Homo sapiens: one gene and its partners. The protein of the gene in region 4 purifies or fractionates together with the protein of the main gene of each other region. This does not show direct contact. Each region holds a gene or a part of one and is shown on either strand. Other genes may lie near its edges.

Region 1 (3,996 bases), on a different chromosome or scaffold from region 4:
TGGAAACGGCCCTGGGGTGGAGGGAAGTCCACATTCTGCACCATGTTTCTGGAGTTTGCTGATAAATCAGCCCACTGTGTCTCCAGCCTGTCTGTGCCTGAGGCCTGCTAAGTAGGGAGTTTTCTGTCTGTGTTGGGTGAGGAGCAGGGGGCACTGCTTCCCCAGCCTGAGCCTTTCTGGGCTCCTACAGAGGAACCACTGTCAAAAGCAAAGCTGAGACCCCCAGGAGAACCCCTCGTGTTTCCAAGAAGCCAGCATGGATCCTTAGTCTAACTCCCAGGGAGCAGCAGCTTAGAAGGACAGACTTGTTGGGCCAAATGGGGCCTGGAAATTCCCACCAGCTCTCCCCTTTTCAGCTCTCCCGAAGGCACCCAGTGGAAACCCCAGATGTTGTGTGCATCCTGCAGGCGTCCTCTCTTTGGGCCTCTTAACACGCAATCCAATTGCCCTGATGTCCAGCGGCTTCAGGTCTCATTCAGGGCAAGCCTGGCTGTTTGCAGGCCTGAGTTTCAGCCATTCACTCCTCATCAGAGCTGGCTCTGGTCAGCTTATGGCCCCAGGAGGCCCTATGGGCTCTGGGCTCTGCAGACCTAGGAGGCCTTCTTGCTTCATGCTGTAACAGTGGACAAAGGCGGAGGAGCTAAACAGCAGGGGAGGTGCACAAAAGCCCTTTACGGTTGGGCATTTTACAAAGTGCTGGGTCCTCTTCACCTCTATACTTTTCACCAAGGGCTGGCATAGTGGCCATTGTCACTGACTCCCAGTGGTTGATACTCACCTTGGGCAGGCCAAGCTGTGGATAGAGGCAGTTCATCTAAACAAAGACAGGACCCCTCCGAGATGAGTTTGTCATCTGGATGGCCCTAGGAGCCAAGTGCTGCCCCCCACCTGGAGTAATGCTTACCTGGGGATCCCCAGCAGCCCCTACCCTCACCTCTACCCCAGATGCTACCTGGTTCCCCCTGCCCACGTTTCTCCCTCCCATATCTCCCTGGCCTCTTCACTCCCTTCTCTGGGTGACCTCATCCCTTTCTGGCTTCAGACACCAAGTATATACTGATGCTTCCCCAGTCTATGTGCCTGGAACTCTCAGTCTCTGAGCCTGGGACTGCACAACCCCCCTAGCACCATGCTCAGGGCTACAGTGAGGATGGCACCCCATGCAGCTACACGAGGTGGCCCTGTGGGTCCTCATTCGGAGTTGTCTCCCAGCCACCTCCCTGTCATCCCCCAGTGTATCCCACTGGCACTCAAATCAGCCACGCATACCTGTGAGCATTCATCTTCCTCCTACATGTGTACCCTAAAGCATGCTACAGCCCCCCACCATGCACTAAGCTCCTTAGGCCTAGCCCAGGATGGATAAAGGTTTTGGGAGGCATTTTCTATACCTACTAGAGCCAGCTGTCCCCAGTGGGTGAGGGCAAGGTGGAAAGGGATAGTAGTGACTCTTCTGTCCCCAGTCCGGAGCTATCCCCTGTGAGCCCTGTGGCATCGAGGCCTCTGAGGAAGAAAGTCTGGGAGCCGCACACTGACTGTGTGTTGTGTGTTTTCCCTCAACAGGACTGCACCTTCTTCAATAAGAAGGACATCCTCAAGTAAGTGTGGCTTCTCGTTCACCCTGTTGGGACTGGGACTGGGGCCGGGGTGAGGCTGGGGCACCCCACATGGGCTGGCTGTGCTCCTGGGGCTGAGGCAGAGCATCAGCATGTATCAGGAGCCACATTCAGGTCCCCACTCGGCCACTGGGCTAGGATGGAGTTAGAGCTTCCCACTCCTCCCAGGGCCCAGATCCTCCTGCTGGGGAATGAACATCTACTTACTATGAGCTTTCAGGTGGGTAGTTTCCGGCACATTCTTATTTAATCCTCATTGTGACCTTGTAACAAGAGAATCCATTTATCCCCATTTGACAGATGGAGCTTAGCAACTTGGCTAAAGTCACAGAGCCAGGGACTCAAGACCCAGCCTCTGACTCCAGGTCCCTTGCTATTTCACTGCATCCTGGGTCCTGGTATAGCAGGGAGTCCCTGTCTGTTAGACCAGGGGTCCCTAAGGGCCCTTTGGCTCTAGCTTTGATGTTCTTCCACTCCTAGGACGTCTAAAAGTTGAGGGCATGGCCACCACCCCTGAGCTATTCATCAGGGCTCTGCTTCTTCCCAGGACAGCCCTTCTCCTTGGTGTTGATGGGGGTGGGGGTGGACCTGGATGGGAAAGATAAAGGGGATCGGCAGCCTCAGAACCCCAGGACCAGTGGGTGAGCAGGAATCACTGAATACCAAGAAAACTGCCCCACGGGCCTCACTAGGCCCCTCTGCCTGGGTGGCACTAAAAGCCAGCAAAGTCCCAGGATCACTTGCCCTGGAGATCGATGGTCAGGCTGGGACCAGAGCCCATTGCAGCTTCCCAAGAGAGCTGTGCTGCAGCTTGTCACTGCCCTAACCATTCTGCTCATTCAGGCAGTGCCTCTCGGCTTTCCTCTCTACCCAGGCTGCTATTCCAACCTGTCACCTGCATGGGCAGGGGATACCCCACTTCCACCACCTTAGAGAGTCTGAGCAAGGGGCAAAGCCTCCAGGCCTGGCATCAGTAGACCTGGCATCTGTGGCCTTGGGCAACCATTTGACCTTCCCTGAGCCTCAGTTTTCTTCTGTATAATAGGGATAGTGAAACCTACCCTCATAGCATTGCCGAGAGGCAGCAACACTGGGGTATAGTGTTTGATAAGTGGGATTTGCCCTGTAGCTTGAGAGATGTCAGGGGTGAGGTCCCCATTTCGACAGGATGGCTCTCGGTATTGGAATAACAAAGCTGTCACCCCTGGCATTCTTGTGGCACCTTTTACCTTTCAGAGTTCTTGGCATGGAGCCTCATTTGAGCCTCACAGGGAGCTTCGGGTTCCCTACCTTTGTAGATGCCAAGCCCAAGCTGCCTGTCTTCTGAGGCCCACGGCCATTTTCATTCTGGCAACAAAAGCCCCTTGCCTCGGCCTTTGCACTGGCTATCTCCACTCCCTGGAGTGTCCTTCGCCTCTCCTCTGCCCACAGCATTGCTATGCATCCTTCCAGACCCAACTCCAGAATCATCTCCTTTATAAGCACCCCCAACACCCTGCCACCCTAGTGCTATCCCAGCTGCTCTAACAGCCTGTTAGGGGCTCCTTGGGTTCCTGGACCCAGGGGCCCAGCTCCCCACCAGACTTGTGATCAGGCAGGACTAACAGGGAGCATGGCACCTGTTAGCCACCAGTGACCATATGAAGAGTGTGTGGGTGAAAGACAGGTAGGATTGGCTGAGGGAGAACATTCCAGGCTGGGGAGCAGCAGAGGTGAGACACAGGCCAGCTTCTCCTGCTCCCACTCCCACCCCCATCCTCCCGTGGTCTCATTGACAGCAGCAAGATTGCCTGTGTGGGGAAGAGGAGAGAGGAGCTTGAAGGCCAGTCCGGGAATCCGATCCAATATGATGGGCCTTTGGTGGTTGTTTTAGTCCATTCTCATGCTGCTATAAAGAACTGCCTGAGACTGGGTAATTTATAAAGGAAAGAGGTTTAATTGATTCATGGCTCCACATGGCTGGGGAGGCCTCAGGAAACTTACAATCATGGCAGAAGGGGAGGCAAACACATCCTTCCTCACATGGCGGCAGGAAAGAGAAGTGCTGGGCAAAGGGGGAGAAGCCCCTTATAAAACCATCAGATCTCGTGAGAACTCACTATCATGAGAACAGCCTCGGGGTAACTGCCCCCATGATTCAATTACCTCCCACCAGGTCCCTCCCATGACACGTAGGGATTATGGGAACTACAATTCAAGATGAGATTTGGGTAGGGACACAGCCAAACCATATCAGGGGTATCCCTGGCCCCTTGGAAAATGAGGGGCTCCAGGCAGGTGAGAGGGCTTGAGGAGAGGCGTCCTGGCTCCCCACAGCCCTGGCCTGCACCCCTCTGCACGCATCAGGACCCTAGGCTCTGTAATTCAACACCAGAGCAAA
Region 2 (3,996 bases), on a different chromosome or scaffold from region 4:
CCTGATGTTGGATATTAAGATCTCTCTGGTTTTATATAATTATAAGCAGTATCAATGAACATCTTTATCATTTTTTTCATACTTAGGATTATTTTAAAAATATGGGTTAAAGAATATGAATATCACAGTAAACTGAAACAAGTTGTCATAGGCCTTGGTCTGGGTCCCCCATAAGCAGACCCTGAGATGAGGTTCAGGAGCACGTTGAGAGGTTCAGAGAGCCTGGAGGGCGTGTACTCCCCGCCAGCCCCGCTGGGGTGCCAGGAAGGACGCTGGCCTCAGAGCCTCCCACCTGGGAGTGAGGGCGCTGGTCTGGTGGGCATTAGCTCGGGGAGCTGTTGGTTTTGGGTGCTCCAGGGTGGGGTAGCGCTAAGTCCTAGCACTTCAGGCTTTAGAGGAAGCCCCCAGGCAGAGAGAGATGGCAGCTGGCACTGACTGGAGGTGCATTGGAGCCTGCTGAGGTGGCAAGGGGCCGCGGCGTGGGCGAGACTGAAGTCCTTCCAGGAGACCCTCCTCTCTAGACCGTTGCCCCGCCACAGATGTGGCCTTCCTCTCTGTTTGGCTCTTTCTTTTCTATGCCCATCTGTCTCAAGGTCTCTGGCCAGGTGGAGCTGTTGCCCCCCTGGGCCTCCATGCCTCCAGTGGGCTTCTAGCCAGGGCACTATCTGAATGTCCTACCTCTAGCAGGCTTTGCCAAGAGAAACACTCTCTAGATTTCTGGCAGTTGCAGATGCATCTGTGCAGCATGTTTGAGAACTGGTGCTGTGCCAGGCATCGTGCACAGATGGGTACGGACGATGACTGAGGCCTAGAGAAGGGGATGACTTACCCAGCACCAGACCCGGATGGCAGCCGAGTCAGGCCCCGTGTGCTTGCTCCTGGAGATGCTCCTGAGCTGATGGGTCACAGCTGCTAAGAAAGGAGCTCTCGTGGTCCATGGGGATCTGGGGTCTCCCGTGTAGCCATAGTGGGGTGGGCTGGAGCATCTCCAGAGGAGGAGGCAGAGGCCTGTGTGTCCTTGTCAGTTTGGGACTCCATGGTGCCCTTCCTGCCTGTGCCTGCGCCATTCCTCATGCAGGTGCCCGGGAGCTGGGGGAGTTCCATGCCTTCATTGTCTCGGACCTGCGGGAGCTCCAGGGTCAGGCGGGCCAGTGCATCCTGCTGCTGCGGATCCAGAACCCCTGGGGCCGGCGGTGCTGGCAGGGGCTCTGGAGAGAGGGGTGAGTGCTGGGGCCTGGACCATGCTGCTGTCGGGAGGGGGGCCCAGTGCCAGTCTGGCCTGTGTCCTGGTCACCTTCAGCTGTCAGGACTGTACTTGGCTGTCTCCAGCAAGGCCCCTGAGTCCCTGCTCTCGTGACACCATGCTTGTCTTGGCTCCAGGCAATCCTTGTGAGGCCTGGGACCAAGGTGGCCATTGGGCCTGGGGTTTCAATAGGGCAGACATCATCACGGGCTCGGGCAGCAGTCCTGGGAAGACGCATCCAGAGGCGTGAAGTTCCTCTGGGAAAAGAGAGGGCTCCAGGGTGGCCGCTGCCCAGAAGGCCCTGTGCTGCAGAGCTGCTTCGGGTGTGGGAGGGGCTGCAGAGCTGGGGCACGGGGTTGCTGGCAGGAACTCAGGGCTCTCTGGGTCCCCTCCAGGCTTCCCCCCAGCCTGCCGGCAAGTTGACACTACCAGTTCTCGGGAGGGGCTTCTGCTGAGATGAGGTTTCTTCCAGGGGTGAAGGGTGGAGCCAGGTAGATGCAGCGGTAGCATCTGAGCTCCTGTCCCAGCTCCAGGAAGGGGAGTTCTGGGTGGAGGAGGAGGAGTTCCTCAGGGAGTTTGACGAGCTCACCGTTGGCTACCCGGTCACGGAGGCCGGCCACCTGCAGAGCCTCTACACAGGTAGTGCCCCGAGGGGCTGTGCTGGGCACGTGCTCTGCCTGCCGAAGTGAGGAGGCTGGGCAGGTGCCTGGGTTCCCCCTGCCCAGGCCCAGTTTGGTTCTCTTCAGCGTGGAGAGATGATTCTGTCCCAGGAGCCGGGAGGAGGGTGATGATTCTGTCCCAGGAGCTGGGAGGAGGGTGGGCTTGTGGGAGGGGCTGGCTCTGTCTGTGGCCGTAGCTGCTGCTTAGACCCTGCCAGGGTTCATGAGGCCACCATGGCGGGAGGCCAGCGAGGAGCCGTGTCCCACAGCTGATGCCTGGTGTTTTCTCACTAGAGAGGCTGCTCTGCCATACGCGGGCGCTGCCTGGGGCCTGGGTCAAGGGCCAGTCAGCAGGAGGCTGCCGGAACAACAGCGGCTTTCCCAGCAACCCCAAATTCTGGCTGCGGGTCTCAGAACCGAGTGAGGTGTACATTGCCGTCCTGCAGAGATCCAGGCTGCACGCGGCGGACTGGGCAGGCCGGGCCCGGGCACTGGTGGGTGACAGTCATACTTCGTGGAGCCCAGCGAGCATCCCGGGCAAGCACTACCAGGCTGTGGGTCTGCACCTCTGGAAGGTAACTCAGCCCCGTCTGGCTCACGCTCGGTTCAGCAGGTGGTGTGGAGGCCCATGGAGGTCTGGGTTCTAGGACTGGCTCTGCCGGGACACATGTGACTCTGCCACGGGCCCCACCAGTCTCCCCCCTCCTTGGGCTGTTGCACGGGGTTGACGTCTGCTGGTGCTCCCAGACCCGGCTCTGACCTGAGACTGCAGGTCTTTCTGCCTTGCCGTGTGCCTCATTGGCCAAAGGAAAGCAACAGAGTCTGCAGCCAGGGCAGGACCCGCAGGAGGGGCCTGGACCCGGGGGGCTCCTGGCAGCGCCGTGCCTTTCTGAGGCAAGGAGGTAGAGCCAGCGGCTGAGGACCTGTCAGGGCCAGTCCCAGCTCTGCAGCTTGCTGTGTGACCTGGCACACATCCTCTCCCTGCCTCCCTCAGTCTCTTCCCCTGCAAGACGGGGTCCTGACACGGATCTCATGGGATTGCTCTGAGGCCCAGGCAGTCCCAGGCTCAACCACTGGTTCACAAAGTGTGTTGTTTCCAGGAAGAACAGATGGGGGCGCCTGAGGGCAAAGGGCCTGAGTGTGGGTCGAGGATATGCCGGCTGCTCGCTCAGGGGCTGGGTTTTCATCTTGTGTGTCTTGACAGGGTGTGACACTTGGCACCACACTGTTCCCTGTCCCTTCATGGATGTGGCCCACATGATGTTCCTTTCCTCTTGCAAAAGAAGTTGCTGGAAGGCCCACTGTCCAGCAGCCCCCAGGTTGCCTGGGCCACGGTGCCTTTGTGGGCCCAGCTACAAGGAGGACTTGCAGGCTCGTGTCTGGGACAGATACTGGCGCCAGGGCCAAGTGAAGCCCGGGATTGGTGGGCATCTCTAGCTGGTCCCTGAGAGAGGGTGGAGGGTGCTGACAGGCCTTGGCGCTTTCATCTGTCAACTCCAGAGGCCCTTGTGCTTGCAGCAGGGAGGTCAAGGCCAGGGCGTCTGACCCCGGCCGCTCCTCCACACTGAGCCTCCTGCACGTGCTCACAGGTAGAGAAGCGGCGGGTCAATCTGCCTAGGGTCCTGTCCATGCCCCCCGTGGCTGGCACCGCGTGCCATGCATACGACCGGGAGGTCCACCTGCGTTGTGAGCTCTCACCGGGCTACTACCTGGCTGTCCCCAGCACCTTCCTGAAGGACGCGCCAGGGGAGTTCCTGCTCCGAGTCTTCTCTACCGGGCGAGTCTCCCTTAGGTGAGAGGAACCGCGCAGTGCTGCTGGCTCTCCGAGGCCACAGGCCCTTCCAAGGCAGGATTTGGGCACTTTCCCTCTGTGGTTGGCAGGTGTCCATGTGGGAACTGAGGCCACCGGGAACCTGCTGCCAGCGCCCTCCCATGTTTGTCTTCTTGGCAGCGCCATCAGGGCAGTGGCCAAGAACACCACCCCCGGGGCAGCCCTGCCTGCGGGGGAGTGGGGGACCGTGCAGCTACGGGGTTCTTGGAGAGTCGGCCAGACGGCGGGGGGCAGCAGGAACTTTGCCTCATACCCCACCAACC
Region 3 (3,996 bases), on a different chromosome or scaffold from region 4:
ACATTAATGGAAATGGATAATGAAAGTCCTAGAACATACATTCTTAACATAGTTATATTGCCCCAAGAGGACAAAAATTGGGTTTTGGGAGATGAAAAAAATCCCTCCAGAGCTTATACCTCTATCCAACAAAATCTTATTCCTTAGTATTTAGTTTTTTCTCATTAGAAAAAATTTAAATGTAATTAATTTTTCTCCTTAAGGATCACTAATGAGAAAAAAATATGGCCAAGAAACACTGGTTTCTTGAGGGAGGCACATAGGCTCACCAGTCACCCTGCTTCAATTTACTAATTACCTGAGCCTGAGGGGAAGGTATCCACCCTCTTAGTGCCTCTATTTCCTTACCCACGGAATGAGCATAGCATTAATGAAGCCAACCTGATAGGGTTATTTTAAGGCGGAAATGAAATAATTTCTATAAAGCTCAGAATAGTGCCTGGCACATATTCTGGGCACATATTGCCCAGTGCATATTAGCAAGCATTGTTATTATTGCTCAGCAAGCCTTGTGGCAGGGCTGGGGGATACAAGAATAAATAAGAGAAATAAGTTTTGCCCTGCCAGAGTTTACAGATATAGTGGGAGATACACAGATAAAACAAAAAGTTACAACGCTTTGTCACCCATGCAGGAATGCACAAATACAGGAAGTATGGGTGCTCTGGGAGGAAAGTGGAGACCCAAGAAAAGATTTAGAGGATCAGGGAAGGCTTCTTGAAGGAAGACCACTAGGCTGAGGACAAATTAATATGAGTTATTTTGGTAAAGGAGAAGAAAAAGCATAGGTGAATGTCAAGTGTCCCAAGGTATGTGTGTGTGTGAGAGAGAGAGAGAGAGAGGGAGCAAAGCATTTAGAATTTTGTTTTGGATGGTTGCACTACAGTGGGGCATGAGATTGTAAACAGTGATGTCCCTAGAGCCACCTATACCAACTCACAGAAGCAGATTGTTAAATTTTCAGGAATTTCGCGAGCCAATTGACTTCATGCCAGCAGCTTGAAATCAGCCACATGGAATAGTTATACTGCAGAAATCGGCAAGTGCTAGAATTAGCATAAATGGGTTAGGTTATAAAGTTGGAGATTTTACAGGGTCTTTCAAACCGTATTAATGAATTTAACATTGATCTTAAAAGAAGTCTTTGTTAGCTTAATGGTCCCAGCCTTTGAAATAGACCTGGGTTCAAGTTCTGACTTTCGATAATAGTTTTATTGAGCAAGTTTATTAATTAACCTTAACCAGGGTAGTTGCATTATTCTCACCGTATTTTGGGAATAGTGGCAGCCTCTGATGGTTGGGGAACTAAGCCCACGGGGAAGGAGTCAGCTATACACTGGGACATTAGGTCATAGAGATAGATAGCTTCTTCTGGAGAGATGCAGACCATTGGGTCACTTGGTTCCCAGGATCCTTTGGCCAATGATGGGCCTCCTAATTATATGTCAATTCCTCACATGTAATTTGTACAGTGAAATTTAGTCCAAGGCTGACTTGCCCTTGCCCCGAAGCTTCTACTGATGTCTTCTCTCTTATTATCAGTTTTGCCCAAGTTCAAAGAAGGTAAAAATAATTTAGATATAGCATCTTCTTAGGCAAGCATAATAAGCAGCTCACTCAGTCACCTTAGCCTGGTATTGTCTGGCACATCAACTTGCTTTCTTTTCCAGTGAATTCAGGGACCTTGTAAAGATAAATCCACATTCAAGTGTGAAAGGCCTGAAAATCCTTTTCTAAGGCCAAAACAACAATTTTTTAGAAAAACTTTTGGTTTTGTTTGTTACTCTATTCATTGGGTAACAAAGAGCATTTTTCTAATCAAGGCTGCCTAATACTACATATAAACGAATTAATATGAACAAATAGCTTGTGATTGTTTCAAACAATAATAGGGAAGAAAGCTTGCATTGTCACGCCTGCTGGGATTGCTGTTTAGTTAGTTGAAAGATATGCCTTGTTTTTTGAAGTGGGGCAAGTTTGTATTCTCTGCTTTACCCCTGCCTTGACTCTGAGACAGATTTTTGTTTTCTCATGCTGAGAGAGCACCTAGCTCTTACAAAGCTAGGTGATGAATACTAAGACGAAACTGGACTAGCAGCAGCAAGAAGATGCCGTGTTTGTAACCGATTTATAATTCTGCTGGTCCAGACACTGAAAAAGAGTTTTCTTATCCAAAGGAAACTCCTGGGATGTATTTGCAGACAGGAACCTGTTCATCATTAGGTTGAGTTAATGTGTTCGTATCCTGTGGATATTGGGGGCATGGGGATGGGGTAGGAAACCAAACAAACTTGCAGCTCTCCAGAGCCATTTTCTGTTTCTAGCACTGTGTTAAGCATTACCCTGTGCTTGATCAGGTTACTGTGGATAGAAGTTGGATTAAAAGTTTCATTTTCATTGTTCATGAAAGAGTCAATAGTTCAGTACCAGAGTGAGCAGTTTGGCTTCTCTTAAACCTAGGATTATATTAGAGGCCAGAATAGGTATCTGAAAACCTAAAAGATATTCAGGTCTCACACCTGTGATTCCAGTAAGGCAAGAGTCTTCTTTATCAGTATTTTTCATGGTGTATCATTCTGTCTCTCATTTGTTACATGACCATTTTGTTATTTTTTAATTTTCATTTTTATATTTATTTGAATTTAAATTATTTTATTCTAAAATATTTTACTTTAAGTTCTGGGATACATGTGCAGAACATGCAGGTTTGTTACATAGGTATACATGTGCCATGGTAGTTTGCTGTACCTATCAACCCATCATCTAGGTTGGTTTTTTTTTTTTTTTTCTTGAGATGGAGTCTCACTCTGTTGCCCAGGCTGGAGTGCAATGTCGTGATCTTGGCTCGCCACAACCTCTGCCTCCTGAGTTCAAGCGATTCTCCTGCCTCAGCCTCCTGAGTAGCTGGGACTACAGGCGTGTGCCACCATGCCTGGCTAATTTTTATATTTTTAGTAGAGATGGGGTTTCACTATGTTGGCCAGGCTGGTCTTGAACTCCTGACTTAGTGATCCGCCCACCTTGGCCTGCCAAAGTGCTGAGATTACAGGTGTGAGCCAGCATGCCCGGCCCATCATCTAGGTTTTAAGCCCGCATACAATAGGTATTTGTTCTAATGCTCTCCCTCCCCTTTTCCCCCACTCCCAGACAGGCCCTGGTGTGTGATGTTCCCCTCCCTGTGTCCATGTGTTCTCATTGTTCATCTCCCACTTATGAGTGAGAATATGTGGTACTTGGTTTTCTGTTCCTGTGTTAGTTTGCTGAGAATGATGGTTTTCAGCTTCATCCATGTCTCTACAAAAGATGTGAACTTATTCTTTTTTATGGCTGCATAGTATTCCATGGTGTATATGTGCCATATCTTCTTTATCCAGTCTGTCATTGATGGGCATCTGGGTTGGTTCCAAGTCTTTGCTATTGTAAATATAGTGCTACAATAAACATGCGTGTGCATGTGTCTTCATAGTAGAAATGATTTATAATCCTTCGGGTATATACCCAGTAATGGGATTGCTGGGTCAGATGGTATTTCTGGTTCTACATCCTTGAGGAATCACCACACTGTCTTCCACAAAGGTTGAACTAGTTCACATTCCCACCAACAGTGTAAAGGTGTTCCCATTTCTCCACATCCTCTTCAGCATCTGTTGTTTCCTGACTTTTTAATAATCATCATTCTAACTGGTGTGAGATGGTATCTCATTGTGGTTTTGATTTGCATTTCTCTAATGACCAGGAATAATGAGCTTTTTTTCATATGTTTGTTGGACACATAAATGTCTTCTTTTGAGAAGTATCCGTTCATATCCTTCACCCACATTTTGATGGGGTTGTTTTTTCTCTTAAATTTGTTTAAGTTCCTTGTAGATTCTGGATATTAGACCTTTGTCAGATGGATAGATTGCAAAATTTTTCTCCCATTCTGTAGGTTGCCTGTTCACAACCATTTTGGTTTTAAGTCAAGAACATAAAGATATTTTGATCCCTCCAAGTGAT
Region 4 (4,478 bases):
TTGAAGGAGGCAGACAGAAACCAAGCAGTCATGGGTGGCGGGTGGGCTGAGTCTCTGTAAGTTGCCCAGGGAAGATAGCTCTGACAAATAATTAGAAGTTGCCAGCCTTGTGTACAGCTGAGAAAAGAGCATTCCAGGCAGAAGAGACAGCAAGTGCAAAGACCCTGAGGCCAGAATGGCCACCAAAGTTGTTTGGTTCCGTGTCCTGAGCTACCAGCTTGGCAGATGGCTGGTGCCCAAAAAATGCTGGAGTGAGGGAATGCCCTTCTTTTGCCCTCCCTTCCTCCCAGTCTGTGTGTCTCTAGAAGGTTGCTGCTCCGCCCACAGTGGAGGACACGTGAAGAACTGGAGTCCTTTTCTGGGGCAGACTCCAATACTGGGACAGAGAAACTCTTCTGCCACGACCATGGAACTGGGAGGTCCCAGTGTCTTTCTTTCCCAACTGCTCTGAGAAAATCGGCCAGTGGCAGGTGGAAATGATATGGAGCCACAGAGCAGCAGGGCAGCAGAGAGGGAGAGCAATGGTAGGGTAGACAGTACAAGGCTCCAGAGAGCTCCTGGATAAAGCAGTGCCGGAAGCTGGCTCCCTCCAAACCTCCATTTACAAATTTTCTCTTCGTGCAAGTCAGTTTGAGTTGGGTTTGTCACTTGCGACTGAAGACGTCCTGACAAATGCCCCAAAGCTACCAGCTCAGAGATGCCCAGAGGCCTCTCCAAAGCTGCCTCCTCAGGTCCCCACTGGGGCCCTGTGTTGTCCTGTCCCTGGACGGCCTGAGCTTCTCGGTGGCCGTGCCAGCCTGGACAAGAGCAGGCCTTCCTTCCGAGAGGCCCGTGGCCACTCCCCCATTCAGCCCTTCTCTGACCCGACAGCCTAGTCGAGGAGCCGGGGCGCGGGCCTCAGACCCTCAGGGCCCACGAGAAGCCAGGGCCGGCTGACCAGGTTCGGCGTGGCCAGCGCCCAGTGGGAAGCACTGGCCGACCTAGCCGAGACTACATGGACGCTTCCAGCGAGTGTGGACGCGGCAGGCGGCCAAATCGCGCCGGGCCTCGGTCCCCATGGCTCGGGACATCACAGCGCTCAGTCTCCAACCTCCGCAGCTTCCGGCCAGACGCCGAGACCCATAACTCCCCGCGCGCGGCCTGGCCCCTCCCCTCCGCACGCCGGTCCCGCCCCTTGAGCCCAGTGCGCAGCCTCGGATTGGCCAGGGCGGCTTTCGCTCCTCTGGTGGGCGGGGTTGCGGGCCACACAGCGGACCCCTAAGCGGACCGCTGGCACCGGTCGGGTGGCAGCAGAGTGTCGCTCGACATGGGGGAGGCCGGGGCTGGCGCTGGCGCCTCGGGAGGGCCGGAGGCAAGCCCGGAGGCAGAGGTGGTGAAGCTGCTGCCCTTCCTGGCGCCGGGCGCGCGGGCGGACCTGCAGGCGGCGGCGGTGCGGCACGTGCTGGCGCTGACTGGCTGCGGACCCGGCCGCGCGCTGTTGGCGGGGCAGGCGGCGCTGCTGCAGGCGCTGATGGAGCTGGCGCCGGCCTCTGCCCCGGCCCGGGACGCCGCCCGCGCGCTCGTGAACTTGGCCGCCGACCCCGGCCTGCACGAGACATTGCTGGCGGCCGACCCCGGGCTGCCAGCGCGCCTGATGGGCCGCGCGTTGGACCCGCAGTGGCCCTGGGCCGAGGAGGCGGCCGCCGCGCTAGCCAACCTCAGTCGCGAGCCGGCGCCGTGTGCAGCGCTCATGGCGGCGCTGGCGGCCGCGGAGCCGGCAGACTCGGGCCTGGAGCGGCTGGTGCGCGCGCTGTGCACGCCCGGCTACAACGCCCGCGCGCCCCTGCACTACCTAGCGCCGCTGCTCTCCAACCTCAGCCAACGCCCTGCGGCGCGGGCCTTCCTACTGGACCCCGACAGGTGAAGCCCAGGGCGCCCGCGCGGGCGGGGAGGGGACGGAAGTTAGGGGGGACGGCCCTAAGTGACACCTCCCAACAGGTGCGTGGTCCAGCGGCTGCTGCCCCTTACCCAGTACCCCGACTCCTCTGTACGCAGGGGCGGGGTGGTGGGGACGCTGCGGAATTGCTGCTTCGAGCACCGTGAGTGGTGGGTGTGGCGGGGGTGCGTTGCCAGGTGTGGGGACTGGACTCCGGGGCTGCTCTGGACCAGTTTCCATTCCCGTCTCCCCACCCTCACCATCCCTCAGGACATCACGAGTGGTTGCTTGGACCTGAGGTGGACATTCTCCCCTTTTTGCTCCTGCCCTTGGCTGGGCCTGAGGATTTCTCCGAGGAAGAGATGGAACGTGAGTGGCTAGTGTGGAGCCTCAGAGTTGGCCGGAGAGGAGGGAGGCCAGTGGAGGGAGAGAGAGGTGTCCAGGCCACAGGCTCCTGAAACTTTGCAGCAGTGAGTTGCTGAGCACAGGTGGGACTTACACAGGCAGAGCCTGGCTCAGCTGCCCAGCCCAGGGACACAGTGGCTCCCACACACTCACCCCTAGGGCTGCCTGTCGACTTGCAGTACCTGCCACCAGACAAGCAGCGAGAACCTGATGCAGACATCCGCAAGATGCTTGTTGAAGCCATCATGCTGGTGAGCAGGAGCCCTGCTGCAATAAGCACCACCCCAACACACACACATGAGCATGCTGACATCTGGGTAACCTCTTCCACCTCCTCAGCTGACAGCCACAGCACCAGGTCGGCAGCAGGTGCGGGACCAGGGAGCCTACCTGATCCTTCGAGAGCTGCACAGCTGGGAGCCGGAGCCCGACGTGCGGACGGCTTGTGAGAAGCTCATCCAGGTTGGTGCAGGGTTGGAGAGGCTGGGGAAGGGGTGTCTGTAGCTGGCCAGCTGCTCACCTGCTTCCCGTCTGGCAGGTGCTTATTGGGGACGAGCCTGAACGTGGCATGGAAAACCTGCTGGAGGTGCAGGTGCCTGAGGATGTGGAGCAGCAGCTGCAGCAGCTGGATTGCAGGGAGCAGGAGCAGTTGGAGCGGGAGCTGGCCCCAGAGCCATGGGTGGAGAGGGCCACACCCACCTGAGGCCCCTGCAGCCGGACACCAGCTCCAGGGTCCCCTTTGCCAGGCTTTCTCAGACCAGGCCTTCCTGCAGCTGTCTGCAGGCCCCCTGGGTCCCCTTGTTCAGAGACTGTGCTCTTCTGAGAAGCAGAGCTACGCTTAGGCTCCAGTAAGGATTGGAGGCACTTTCCAGCCCTGTGCAGTGTTGCTACCAGCAAGAATGAAGGTTGTGCAGAGCAGTACTGTGAGGTAGGCACCGTGACTCGGCTGCCTGTGCAGAAGGTGGAGGTGGCAGGCGGATGGCCAGGGAGCCATGAGAAGACTCTTCCTGGGCACGGCGTGGGGACTGGACAGAAAACCACTGCAAGCCCCAAGGAGCCAGCTGAAGCCTCCCAATCCCCAGGGCACTGCAGAGTCTGGGCAGAGGTGGGCGCATAGGTACAAGTGCTGCTTTGTCAGCCTCACTCCCTGCAGCTCTCAGCTCCCTGTTCCCTGAGACCTGGCCTCAAAGGGCTGACCCAGCCATACGTAGATCCTGGGGTCTTTCTAGGACTGTGCCTCCCTGCTTGACCTATGCTCCAGGACCCTGCCCTCAACCCTTGTCAGCTCCCTAAGTCTTCCTGTTTCCCAGTCTCAGATTGAGTGGGTGCTCTCATTGGCCTCTCTAGCTAGGCCGTCTCCCTGGTCAGCTTCCTTGAGCCTGGGCCACTCCTCCCTGGCCTTCTTACCTCTGCCAAGAGCCTCCAGATGTGCCTGCAGCCTAGTCCCTGCCCAAGCTTCTCCCCCAGCCACCCTCTGCCCCTGTGGTAGAGCCCACTATAGGCCCAGGCGCCTTACGTGCTTCTCCCCTGGACCTATGTGCATCCCTCACCTGCCAGTTATGTGGCTGCCAAGCCCCACAGGCTGTCATGGTGGCTCTTGCCACACTTCCCTTCCTGAGCTGACCTGACCTCACTGCCACCTCTTGCATTGGGATCCTGAGGGCTGGCCCCTGCTCACTGATGGGCCCTCCCAGGCCCGTCAAGCCCTGGTGAAGGAGCTTAGCTTGTCTTCTTGGCAATTCACAATGCCTCACTCCACACCCTAAAACTGGAGCGTCCCCTATGGTCTCCTGCTGTGGCTTGGGTGCCGGGCGTCTCCCGCCTCCAGGATCTCCTCTCACCTGCCCCCATTAAAGCTCTGCCACTCATGCAGGCATGTGTGGACCATGTTTTCCCCTGGCCAGAGCCCCCACCTGCCACTGGAGGCCAGTTGCCCTCTTAGCACTCAGACATCAGCACTGTCTTCACAGAATAAATGCTTTATCTGGCCTTGCCCCACCCACCCACCCTCAGTTTACTGGAGCGCCTCCTGGAGGCGCTCACTCCCAGGCTGGCTGCTACGAGCTCTAGAGGACCAGCTGGGCAGAACCCACCCCTCTTCTGGGGTGCGCTTCTGGAGGCCTGAGCTCAGGGCCCGTATTCTCCTTGGGGATGCCCT
Region 5 (4,488 bases), on a different chromosome or scaffold from region 4:
GGAGGATCGTTTGAGCCCAGGAGTTTGAGGCTGCCAGGAGCTATCATCGCACCACTGCACTCTAGCCTGGGCAACAGAGTGAGACCCTGTCTCAGAAAAAAATTGTGGAAAACGGGCTATCTTTTCATCTCCATTTTTTTTTCTCAGTAAGATGGAATCTCCTTTGGAAAAAAGTGTCAAAAGAAAGCCCTCCCCCCAACTAAACTGTCAAAAATGTCAGCAACTATCAAATTAGAAACTCTTATGAAATAAAAGCCTATCCAAGACTTTAAAAATACCTTTGAGGAATCCTAGTTTTTGGAAATGACTGTTGCCTTCACTTATTTCTAACATTTCTTTTTTCTTTTCTTTTTTTTTCTTTCTTTTCTTTTTTTTTTTTTTTTACATGGAGTCTCACTCTGTTTCCCAGGCTGGAGTGCGGTAGCGTGATCTTGGCTCACTGAAACCTCCACCTCCTGAGTTCAAGCGATTCTCCTGCCTCAGCCTCCCAAGCAGCTGGGACCAGAGGCGTGTGCCAGCAGACCCAGCTAATTTTTGTATTTTTACAAAAATACAAAAATTTTATTTTTGGGGTGTGCTGGGGTGTGCCAGCAGACCCCAGCAGAGATGGGGTTTCACCATGTTGGCCAGGCTGGTCTTGAATTCCTGACCTCAGGTGATCCACCGGCCTCGGCCTCCCAAAGTGCTGGGATTACAGGCATGAGCCACTGTGCCTGGCACCTCTTTCCTTCTTGTTTGAACATCTTTTACAGATCTTGATTATATTCTACAACATAATGGGTGGTCTCTGGCACACTGCCTTTTTGCTATTATTATTGATACTTTATGAAGACCAAGTGTGCTAAGACATTGTACATTTGCGGAGCCACCCATTCTCCCCTTTAACATCTTTGTTTCATGTCACTCTTCACTGCATTGCATGTCATCAGTTTCCCATTCTGCAAGTATTTCTTCAATCAGTTTCCCTTTATTATTAGCCATACGAGATCCAAAAATCCCTTAGCAGGTTAATGTGGACTGGGTGCAGTGGCTCATGCCTGTAATCCCAGCACTTTAGGAGGCCAAGGTGGGTAGATCACCTGAGGCCAGGAATTTGACACTAGCCTGGCCAACCTGGTGAAACCCTGTCTCTCCTAAAAAATACAAAAATTAGCTGGGTGTGGTGGCATGTGTCTGTGGTCCCAGCTACTTGGGAGGCTGAGGCAGGAGAAAGGCTTGAACCCGGGAGGTGGAGGTTGTGGTAAGCCAAGATCATACCATTGCACTCCAGCCTGGGCAACAGAGCAAAATTCTATCTAAAAAAAAAAAGAAAGAAAGAAAAGAAAAGAAAATAGTAGGGCTTTTTCATTGTTCAGCTGAAACCTCTCCAGCTCCTCATAGCTGAATTTCTGGGAACGTTCCCTCCTCTGTTCATTGATATTCTTGTCCCTGACCCCAGCCCCCGCAAGGCCCCTTCTGTGTACACTTGACTGAATTTTATGGGCCTCGTGGATATGCATGGGCTTATCTCCAGACATCATAAATTAACCACAGCTGATCTCATCCAGACTGCCTTCTGACAGTAACCACTGATGAAGAACCCTCCTTTGAGAAGCTGCCTTTGTGTCCTACAGACAGGCTGGGGCCAAAGCCATTCAACCAATCCCCAGATAATCCAGAGCTCTTGGGAGCAGAACCTTAAAGAGAGATCGTGGAGAGAGCCAGGGCCCAGAAGAACTCTCTCAAAGGTACATTTTGACCCGGAAACTTGGGAGGGTGTGACAAGTGGGGTCTTAGGGCCCCCATAGCAAAGAAGGAAGGTCTAGAGCATCATGGTGCACTAGAAATATAATACGAGCCACATAAATCATTGTAAGTTTTATAGCAGAAGCACTTTAAAAAACTAAGAAGAGTGCAATTTATTTTAATAACATGTTCTGTGGAATCCATGTATATCTAAACGATTATCATTTCAACACATAATGAATACAAATAATTATTAATGAGATACTTTACATTTTTTCCCTATACTTTGTCTTCAGAATCAATAGGTATCTTACACTTACAACATAGAACAATTTGAACTTTCCCATTTCAAGTGCTCAAGAACCAGAAGTAGCTGGTGGCTGCCATATTGGTTCTGGAAGGGGACAGCCAGAGAAAGTAGGGAAGGTGGTCTTGTGGGTGAGGTCCTTTCTCTGTTAATAAACTCAAAGAAATGGGTTAAACCAGATTCTATGAATGATGTAATGCTAAGGAAGGTTGCCTGAATCCCAAGCTTAGGGAAGAAACTGAAGAAAAGGGAACAAGTTACCTGTTAAGAGACTGGGTGAATTACTTATTAAATTCTTGGTAGTGGATTAAAATCTTCATGGTTCTGTCAATGTTTGGACCATTTCTCCAAGGTAAGGCTTACTCTCCCTATTTTAGGAAAAAGAAAGTTGAGATTCAAAAAGAGCTTACTGAGATCCTGTTGCTTCTCCCTCCAAAGGCAGCCTAAATATGTAATAGAAGAGGTGTGTGTGTGCGCCTAGAGGTGGAGGGAAGGCTTACACTGAAGTTTTGTTTCAGATCTGGGGTCATTTGCTGCTGAGAAGCAGAAGGACTCATTATTTTGAAGGTACACTATACTTCAGTGACTTTACAGCCCCATGTGTGCCTGTAATTATTCACAATGGCTTCTATAGTTTAGGTTTTATCTCCACTAAACAGATAGGAATACTGACTTGGAGTTCAGAGAGGTGAAATGACCTTCCCAAGGCCACCCAGTTGAAACATGGGAGAGGTAGGATTTGAACCCTGGTTGGTTGGGTGCTATTATCTTCTCACCGCTCCACTGTGAAATTATTTTGGCTTAAGAGAACGAGAGGGCAGAGGCTGTGGGCTAAGCTGCCTCTTGGGCACCCTATCAGGGCCTTAATACTACCAGTTGTATCTGCCATTATTTTCCATGTTGGGTGGTAGATATTGGTGCCAATGTCTTATCTATAGCTGTTTGAAGACAGCTATCATATCTGGTTCCTCTTGGTACCCACCACATTTCCTTATAGATGATAGGGTTCTTGAATACTCATTGGATGGGTGGTGGATTGAAGGAAGATTAAAGAATGAAAGGAAGGATGGGTGGATAGAAGAATGGATGAACAGTGAAAGAATGGATGGATGGAAGGATGGATGAGAAGTGGATGAATAAACTGAAGGATGGATGAAACGATTTATCTCTGATTGTTGAAGGCAGAAATCATGTATGGTTCCTCTTGGTACTTGACACAGTTTCTTATGGATGGTGGGTTTCTTAAATACTTATTTGATGAATGATTGATGGATGGATGATAAGAGGATGGATTCAATGAATAATGGATGAATAGAAGGATAAATGAATGGACAGATGAGTGGATAGATAGATGGCTGGTGAAAGATGGGCAAAAGGATGGGAGAATTGATAGACAGATGGAAGAATGGGTGGAAGGATGAATGGGTGGATGAATTGATGGATGGATGTATGGATGATGGAAGAAGATAGATGAAAAGATGGATAGATGGAGGAATGGATGTAAGAATGGGTGGAAGGATACATGGGTGGATGGGTGGATGGATGGATGATGAAAGAAGAGTTGGTAAAGGGATGGTTGATGGATGGATGGATGAGGGAATATTAACAATGAAGAGTATCATTAAGCAGAGAAAAAATTTCTCAGAAGGTAATATTTTCAGGAAAGTTTGAAAGCCAATAAATAACAAAAGTAAAAGAAGAGAATTAGAACATTCTCAAAATGTTTGCTTAATTAATTAATTACTGCCGGTCTAGCATGGTGAATGAATGTTATCATCATCATCATCGTCATCATTAATGGCCAACATTTATTGTGAGTTATCTCTATAGCACGCATTGTCTTAAGCATTTTGTATCTTTCATCTAATTCAATCCTCCCAACAACTCTATGAAGTAGAACTGTTTATTAGCATCCCCATTTTATAGAGGGGTAAGCTGTGAAGTACCTTATTAAATGTCACTCTGCTAGGCACCACTGAAACATCCACACAGGTTTTTAATTACTGGCATGCCAGTGGAATTGGAATGCCAACACCAAGAGGCCCCGGCACAGCGCTTTGCTCTATAGATGTTCAATAAATTTGGTAAGTCAATAACTACCTCATAAAATTAATCCATTCCTAAGACAGCCATCTCATTGTTGCAGATTTTTCATTTTGTGATTTTAAACTGCCTCCTATTGCTTTACTCAGGGTGTTCTATCTTTTTTAAAAACCATTTTAACTCTGCATGTTTTCATGTGAGCATATGTGCATGCATATACCTGTATATGTGCACATATGATGTGTGTATATTACACATGCCTGTATACATATATACACATCTATAATGTATACAGGCATGTGCACGTATATGTATATACACATTATGTATGTGCATATACATGTATAATTACTGTTTCTAAAATGTTTTATTGATACACAACAATTGTATATATTTATTGAGGTACGCGTGAT
Region 6 (4,090 bases), on a different chromosome or scaffold from region 4:
TTAAGAAAAACTGTTACATCACTAAGTATTAATAAATTCTTCTTACCTGACGTAACTTCTCAATGCCTAAATTCTGTAGTTGAAGCTCTGCTGCAGAGAGTTGGGATAATTTTCTTTTGGTGGATCAGCTCTCATAAAAAAGCTATGATTTGCTCAAATATGCTGTTGACTCAGTAAATGAATATATTTTTTTCTTTAAATAGGAACAACCTCTTTTAAAAGAGAAAAATTATTTCAGTGATTTGTCAAAACGAATTACCTCTTTTGGCATGAGCTAATAATTGAGGGTGCTAATTTTCTTAAGATAGTGCCTAAAACACTAAATTTCAGTCAAGTCGTAAGTAGGATTTTCTTTTTGATCAACAGGGACAAAAACATCTTTAGAATTAAAAACATGGTTGTTTTGGAATTTTTGCTTCTCTTACCGTTTGATAGAAATTTTCATCCTAAAATACATGTACAAAGTTTGGAAAGATGAAAAAAAGAGGTAGCTTTTAGATTGCAAACTGGAAATGTAAAACTCATGAAATTTAAGCAATATAGGTTTAGCTATCTGTGTTTATTTTCTAAAATAATACCTGAGCTGGTTAAATGATTTCTCTCCATCTTAGCTAATTCTGTTTAAAACTCTGTCAGAGGCCTGCAGGCTGTGAGTTATATTTATAAATATATCTTCAGAAATTAATCTTAAAAGAGGCATTAGTTCAGAATACTTTTTTAAAAGTTTAAATTAAATATTTAGGCACGTCAGGAATTACTTTTCCTTATTTTGAAATGAGGCTACTTATGTCTTGGTTTTATTTTGTTCCATGTTTAAATCATTCACTTTGATTTGAGTGGGAAAAGCCTGAAGCCTTTATCATGTGGTTGCTGGTGTGTGTAATTATTAATGAAATGTTCACTCCTAGTCCCTTATGAGGCTTAGAATTTCAACCACGTGTCAGGTCAGACAGTATTATAAACTGTACTTTGCTGTCTGAGACAGCACATTTGTGAATGATGCTTGCTGCCTGCCATTTTCAACCTATTCTCTCTTAAGAGTGCTAGGTACCAAATTGTGAAAGTTTGTTTTCAGTTATATTACTTTTGAGGCTGGTGAAAAATTTAAATGTAACTTTGTGGGAACACTGATTCATATTTAGAAAATGTAAATGTCTGTAGCACTTTCTTGCAGTTAATTTGAAAACTTTGGATGCTGAACCTTGTTTGTCAGTGATTTAGATGATTTAAAAATGCATGTGTGATTTGAATTTTATAATTGTTTTGACAAGCATAATTTACTTGGACAACTTCGTAGGTAGCCTTAACTTCTGGCCAAGTTTGTTTTTTATATAAATATATATACATATATACATATTATGTATGGTTGTAAATTCATACACTTATCACATGAATGTGTTACTGTATACAAAACTCTTAATGCTTTATTCTCAAATGCTGGGTTGAAAAATGTTTTGAAAGCCTTTTAAAATATATATCTTTATAAAGTAATATTCAGGATGATGATAAAAATTGTTTATATTGTTATGATAAAAATGACAGTATAATGTTGCCCAGTGTATTTAATGATTTATTTGAAGAGGGATTGGGAAGGAACGTCTTCATACCACTTTCTCCTTTGAAATTTTCAGTTTATTGACTTTTAAAAAATGAATACCTCAGGCAGTAGACATTTTTTTTCTAGTATCATTTAATTGATACCCTGTGCGCTAAATAGTGTGTGGTGCCTGATTAATTTGGTCTGAATATTTGATTCTTTCTGTTCCTTTCAACTTGACATTCAGATTATTGACTCAAGGAGAGAGGCTCAGAGTGGAATGGTTGGCGCTGTGGGTAAGGTTGGATCTCCCTTAAAACTGCCTTTTGGATTCAGTGTTTGTGCTTGAGTTCGCTTTCAAATATGACCATAATCGTGTGGGTGCAAGACTGTACAGTGATACATATGTAGAGGTAAAGCATTCATTTTAATACTTAAAGTTATATAAATCTTTTCAAAAAGTGTTTTGTTATAAAATACGCTGTTTGTACCCATACCAGCCCACCTCTTCTGAGGCCCTGTATTCAAATAGATGATAGTGATCTATCTTTCCTGCATGAAGTGTAGGTGGCGAGTGGGCGAGGGGCGCAGACTTCTTTGAAATCGAAGGGTACAGTCAAATCTACTGCTGATTTGGTTGTTTTGTTGCTGTGGCAGAATATGCCATGAAACACATACAGACTTCTCCGAACGTGCACCCTCATCAGCCACCTCCTCCCCTCTTTCCCTGAGTGCTGTGAACACAGCAGACCTGCACACTTCTGCAGATCCAGCTCCTACAGCTTGGGGCACTAGGCTGCCTTTCCTAGTCCTGTCAACAACCATACAGTGCGAATTGCTGAATTAGCTGCTATTCTATGTGGAGTCACATTAAGCTTTTTCTTATCTTTTTCTATGGGGAAGCTATAGGGTGGGTAAGGAAAAAATGTTGAATGCTTTTACTTTGCTGAAAATATTAGAACTCTCTTGTGACAGGATACAGCAAATTATAATTAAATATAAATTACCAGAACCAGAGCTACCTCTAAGTCATACTTCCTCAAGCACAAAGCTCTCAGGCATATGAGACCCACCTTAATGAAGGGTCTCTGATTTCTTGAGCATCAGCGAGTTTCAGAAGTGACTATTTTTTTGTACTCTTCTAGTTTCCTTGTAACTATACACTTTTTCCCATTCCACACTGTGCTTAAATGACAAAGACTCTTCTGAGAAGCCAAATTCTGTCCAAGTATTAACTAGAGATATTGTTGATTAAAGAAAATCTAGAACTGAAGTGAAAGAAGAGAGTTCCAGTTCTAATAGTCTTTTGATTAACAATTCTTTTCTGAGAAATGATTTTTATAAGAAATGGGGTGATTCTTTAAATGCTTTTCTTAAGTTGAAGGCACAACAGTTAATGGCTGTATTGTTGCTATTCCGTTGCTGACATGTTTTTGATAAAGCTTTAACATTCCTGCTACTAATTTTGGCGGAGAGTGTTTGCCAGGTTTCAATGTGGGCTGCAGCTTTTTGTGCTCCTTCTCTGGTTTGCAGTGTAATGAGTTCATAAGCTAAATTTTCAGAAAGAATTTTGTTTAAGATTATGCCTCTTATCTACTTGAGAGCAACATGTCTTTTCAATCATGGGATTGACACATGAAAAATAAAGTTATTTCTTAATCAATTTTGGGAAGCAGTCTTTTATTGAGAATCTTTGAAACTGGAGTGTCCTGCCTGAGAACACTTTGCAGTTGTTGGTCCTAGTTATATTGTAAAACTTGCAGTCCCCGCAGGTCTTCTGACCCTTCCAGAGTTAGTATTCCTAGCTGTGTGTAGTCCACAGCATACACGCAAACACACACACACTCAAATGTAGTTTTTAGTGATAACTTGCTGGGGGTTGTCTTTCAGAATGCAAACCCCTCCTTTGGGAGGTGCTTAAAATATTTCTATCAGCCTATGTATATATGTGTATGTTTTTAATTTCTTTTCCTCTTGGGATGGATGATTTTTCTCACCAAGCATTTCACAAATCATATGACCTCACTTCTGCAAAAATAGTCTCTTCGTCATTGATAACGTTCATGCAAGATTCAGTAGACGCTAGGCAGCATCACTCGGCACGTGTCCAGCTGGAGGGAGGCATGGAGTGTCATTTTCTAATCTGGGAGCGTTGTGCACTATTGAGCTCATTCTTGACTTAAAAAAAAAAAATGAAACAAAAGAGGCTAACATCCATTGCCATCCAGCTGAGGACATAACCTCATATCTGCCCATCCTCTTTCTGAGTTTTGTCCAGAGAAGGTAGTAAGTTTGGACTTGTACCCTATTTTACTTGAGCTAAAACTTGATGAAGACTTTGGGTATCTTAGGTAGATCTAGTAACAAGGAAAAAACTCCTATGTCTTGATTAATCAAGATAAGGATCACTATTAAAGGGGATATAATACTTGAACCCCTAAAGCTACTTTTTTTTAAAGGGTCAAAACATCTTTTTCCCCCCTTTTTTTGGAAGTTACTTTTAATAAGTGTAAAAGCTACAATTAAAAAGTAAAAAATTCAGCCTTTGGGTAA
Region 7 (3,996 bases), on a different chromosome or scaffold from region 4:
TGAATTAAAAGGCTCATTAAATGATTTATATGACTTACGCCTTCTGAAAATATGGCCTCAAACACAGAGATCCCCAAAGCCACACCGACCCCTGCGTCCCATGTTCTCGACCTCACCGCATCAGCACCAGCAAGACCTGTCGCTGAGACGGTGAGTGATGAGAGTCAAGAGGAGTGACTTGCATGGCCTGGGAGGAAACCTCCTGTGAATCTTTAGTTAAGCAGGAAAAAAAAAATCCTCATGAAGGAAACAGGATCTTGGGAGCATTTTGAATGAAGAAGGAGCTTAGTGAGCCAAACTTGAGACATAGGGTGTAATGTGGGAGAGTTTTAAGATTTGCAGAGATGTACAGCTTGGGAGGGGGTGTAATGCATTTTCTTAAAAGAGCTGAATGAATGGTTGAGGAAATGGGTACATCTGGTTTGGTTAAGGATCCTAATCTCTGAAGCCTGGGATGCCCCCAGGGCTTGTAATTTAGGAATACTTCCCCTAATAGTAGCTAACCCTTATATAGTGCTGTCTGTGCAGGCTACAAAAGGAGCAGATTAAGGATAGAAAAGGTTTGGAGTGTATGAGAAACCCTAGGCAGGAATTGACTCCTGGTGTTTGTAAACCTTAAAGATGTCCTAAAAAGGTCAAGGAATAAGACAGGAGAAAAAGGAAATGTCAGGAAGATGATCAATTTAATGTTTATGGAATTTAGTTTGTACTTACTGCCCGGCATCTTGCCTGAGGTTTTTAACCTCAGCAGCACATCAGAATTACTGTGTGTGTGTTGGAGGGGCTGGGGGAGATAAAGAAATTAGCCTCATCCCAAACATTCTGATTCAGTCTGTTACTTGAGAAACTGAATTGTGTTTTGTCCATAAAGAAGATGAAATTGTCTACAGAGAACACATTGCCATTCACAAGGTTGAGGGGATACCACAGAGAGGCTCCCACTGTGATTTGCATTTGTCAAAAGTTCTAGAGAATTCTTCAACAGTACACACATGGTTGTTTTAAATATATCATTGTTATAAAAATTCGTTTTGAGTTCTGTTTCACAGAAAGTTTTTTTGAATGAATGAATGTCATATATCCTTGCTAAAGGAGCTCAGTTAAAAAAAAAGGGACCATCCTTCTCTTTTGGGGGTTGTACAGTAACACATTCCCAAGAAAGAGGTAACAGCCACATACATTTTTCTTCCCAATAAAGAGTGTGGGTTTTTAATATGAATCCATAGTATGATTTCTGTTATGTTTTGTGCTGCTTCATAACCACACTCATGCACTTTTCAGAAAATTAATACCATTCATTAGCATAAATCATAAACTATTCCCTTGGTATGGGTTTGAAATTGGGGGTGCCCTATCATCCTTGCTTTATCTCTTAGTGAATTATGACCCTGTAGTCATCATGGCTGGTGGGCGTCTCTGGTTAAAGAAAGGGTTGGATTGGAAGGATTCAGAGGCGATTCTTTGTTCTTAGGCTTTAATATTTTAATGAGCCTGCAGGCTTGGCTGCTTACGAACGAGCTGAGATTTCTAAGTGTGTTGTTAGTGTTAGCACTTGTAGAAGGATGTTCATTAGGAAGTTCTTGTTTCAGTTTTTCAGAGAAACTCCCCATTAAGAAAGATCATTCAGGAACATGGCTACCAAGAAAGAGGAAAGGGAGGAGGGAGGCTTTCAGCTATAAGCATTAAGGGGATATTGTATCAGTAGTCTTAGTTCTAAAGATTTGCTTCTGAGAATTAATTGGAGCAAATACATCTCAAGGGAAGAAAAAAAAAGATTTATAGGGCAGGGACAGTAGTTGTCCTTGCAAGTAGAGGACACTTCATTTTGCAGCTGAATCAATACCACAACTAATTATTTCTGGTTATCTTTTACGCATTTGTAAGACATTGCTTTTGTTCAGTGTAATAAAAAACCCATTGTTTGATCAGTGACTGACTAATTATGATAAGTAATTTGAAACATTCTTGATGAAACTTGTCTGTTAATTAACATCAACAGCACAGGGAAACTAACAGGACAACAAAGTATTAGTGGATCCACTGTTCCCTCCAATTGACGAGCTTTCTCTGTGGCATGCCCAATAAACTAAAGCTGCCAATGGTTAAAAAATAACAAACATGTGGGAGATCTGACTCACCACGGAGGAAGAGTTATGGTAAAGTTACACAAAGGAGTACTGAAATATTACAAGCGAGGGGGTGGTAAAGAAATGTCAGCAGGTAGCCTGATCCTACAGCTTAGAGTAAGGAAAGTGGTTTCTTTCTGTCTTTCCTTTTTCTTTTAAAGCTTAATTCCAAAATACATTCATCCCATATTGATCTGAAGTAAGAGACTTTTGATAAATTAAAGTGTGAATCTGAAAATGTGTAGTTTGGGATTATGGGCATTGCCTGGCTATCTTGTAACTGTCATTAATACTGTTAATTTTTATCAACTCAATGGCTTTTTTTTCTTATGCTTTTAGATTTCTACCTGGACAAGGACTGGTACTATACCCACAGATAGGAGACAAATTGGATATTATTTGCCCCAAAGTGGACTCTAAAACTGTTGGCCAGTATGAATATTATAAAGTTTATATGGTTGATAAAGACCAAGCAGACAGATGCACTATTAAGAAGGAAAATACCCCTCTCCTCAACTGTGCCAAACCAGACCAAGATATCAAATTCACCATCAAGTTTCAAGAATTCAGCCCTAACCTCTGGGGTCTAGAATTTCAGAAGAACAAAGATTATTACATTATATGTAAGTATAATTTTATTCATTTATTTTATAGAAATTAAGATAAGCTATATAGGTTTGTATCAATTTTTTGTTTCCTTAAAATTATTGTGACAAATAATTTGATGAAAATCTATGTGGAAAAATTGTCCCCCCCCCCTTTTTTTTTTTCAAAGAAAACTTCATTGAATTTGGGACCCTGTGCTACCAGTATTCATTAAGTATACATACCCAAAGAGAAAAAAAAACACTAGAATTCTTAATAGTATTGAAATAAATGTATTATATGAATATATTCAGCATCTCTACTGACAAAACCATTTTTAAGGACCATTGGTGGATTTTGATAGGTAAATCTTGTGCATTGCCTTTTCTCTTCACCCATCCATCCATTCATTCACTCATTCATTTCGTATTTATTCTGTGCCAGAGACTGTGCTTAAGGGCTAGGGATTCAGCAGTGAAAGGTGGTAAAATAGCATGTTTTCCTCAAGAAGTTAACAGTCTAGAGAAGATGGAGCTCATAAATTCGAAAGATGGGGATGACAGGTCACATTAAAACCAGATTCAGAAGAAAAAGACGAAACTTGGTTTGCTTAGTACATTACTCTTTTTTGCATACATATATATAATTTGACACGCTGTTTCAAGAAGAGATGGTACGTATCCCTTGGGTCATATCTGAGGCTGACTTGTGAGGATGTGAAGTCAGCTGATGAGCACATTTGGAGCCCACGCCTACTATGTGCAGATCTCTCGTCAGCGTCATTCCCAGGGCCCCAGGTGGTGTTAAAGTCTAGGTGACTCAGACAGCTGTTCGCGTCATTCAAGCAATGAAGTCTTTTTTCTTAATTTCTTTGGTTTAAAATTATACTCATAATTAATTGGGTTGAATTTTCCAGTGGCTTGGTTACCATAGACTTCAGTTTATTAGGGAACTGCTATCTGCCACTGGTTTATTATTTGCCCCAAGGTGGACTCTAAAACTTTAGGTAGGAGACTCTTGGTGATCAAACTGAAACTCTTGCATCTCAACCTATGAGCCGCACTTTATTGTTATTTTATTTTTTTAGAGACAGGGTCTAGCTTTGTTGCCGAGGCTGGCGTGCAGTGGCATGATCACAGCTCACTGTAGCCTTGAACTCCAGGGCTCAAGTGATCCTCCCACCTCAGCCTCCAAGTAGCTCGGACTACAGGCATGTGCCACTGCACCCAGCTCAAGAGCTACACTTCAAAGCACAGAATGAAAACCTATTTTTAAAGCCAACTTG

The links.
Region 1: the proteins of HGH1 (region 4) and CIB2 purify together in Homo sapiens (co-immunoprecipitation; one large-scale study listed by IntAct). This does not show direct contact.
Region 2: the proteins of HGH1 (region 4) and CAPN10 purify together in Homo sapiens (co-immunoprecipitation; one large-scale study listed by IntAct). This does not show direct contact.
Region 3: the proteins of HGH1 (region 4) and LPAR1 purify together in Homo sapiens (co-immunoprecipitation; one large-scale study listed by IntAct). This does not show direct contact.
Region 5: the proteins of HGH1 (region 4) and ELSPBP1 purify together in Homo sapiens (co-immunoprecipitation; one large-scale study listed by IntAct). This does not show direct contact.
Region 6: the proteins of HGH1 (region 4) and SLK fractionate together in Homo sapiens (co-fractionation; one large-scale study listed by BioGRID). This does not show direct contact.
Region 7: the proteins of HGH1 (region 4) and EFNB2 purify together in Homo sapiens (co-immunoprecipitation; one large-scale study listed by IntAct). This does not show direct contact.

Annotation. Positions count from the first base shown.
Region 1 is NC_000015.10:78,121,307-78,125,302, reverse strand, and holds part of CIB2 (calcium and integrin-binding family member 2), read left to right. Parts: intron 1-1,563; coding exon 1,564-1,598; intron 1,599-3,996. UniProt on the Homo sapiens protein: Calcium- and integrin-binding protein that plays a role in intracellular calcium homeostasis. Acts as an auxiliary subunit of the sensory mechanoelectrical transduction (MET) channel in hair cells.
Region 2 is NC_000002.12:240,592,828-240,596,823, forward strand, and holds part of CAPN10 (calpain-10), read left to right. Parts: intron 1-1,078; coding exon 1,079-1,220; intron 1,221-1,715; coding exon 1,716-1,882; intron 1,883-2,196; coding exon 2,197-2,477; intron 2,478-3,491; coding exon 3,492-3,694; intron 3,695-3,853; coding exon 3,854-3,996.
Region 3 is NC_000009.12:110,965,274-110,969,269, reverse strand, and holds part of LPAR1 (lysophosphatidic acid receptor 1), read left to right. Parts: intron 1-3,996.
Region 4 is NC_000008.11:144,136,530-144,141,007, forward strand, and holds HGH1 (protein HGH1 homolog), read left to right. Parts: upstream 1-1,244; 5' UTR 1,245-1,306; coding exon 1,307-1,899; intron 1,900-1,977; coding exon 1,978-2,078; intron 2,079-2,185; coding exon 2,186-2,284; intron 2,285-2,479; coding exon 2,480-2,571; intron 2,572-2,659; coding exon 2,660-2,782; intron 2,783-2,858; coding exon 2,859-3,023; 3' UTR 3,024-4,322; downstream 4,323-4,478.
Region 5 is NC_000019.10:47,993,085-47,997,572, forward strand, and holds the start of ELSPBP1 (epididymal sperm-binding protein 1 precursor), read left to right. Parts: upstream 1-1,547; 5' UTR 1,548-1,727; intron 1,728-4,488.
Region 6 is NC_000010.11:104,026,034-104,030,123, forward strand, and holds the end of SLK (STE20-like serine/threonine-protein kinase), read left to right. Parts: 3' UTR 1-3,200; downstream 3,201-4,090. UniProt on the Homo sapiens protein: Mediates apoptosis and actin stress fiber dissolution.
Region 7 is NC_000013.11:106,511,282-106,515,277, reverse strand, and holds part of EFNB2 (ephrin-B2 isoform 1 precursor), read left to right. Parts: intron 1-2,465; coding exon 2,466-2,749; intron 2,750-3,996. UniProt on the Homo sapiens protein: Cell surface transmembrane ligand for Eph receptors, a family of receptor tyrosine kinases which are crucial for migration, repulsion and adhesion during neuronal, vascular and epithelial development.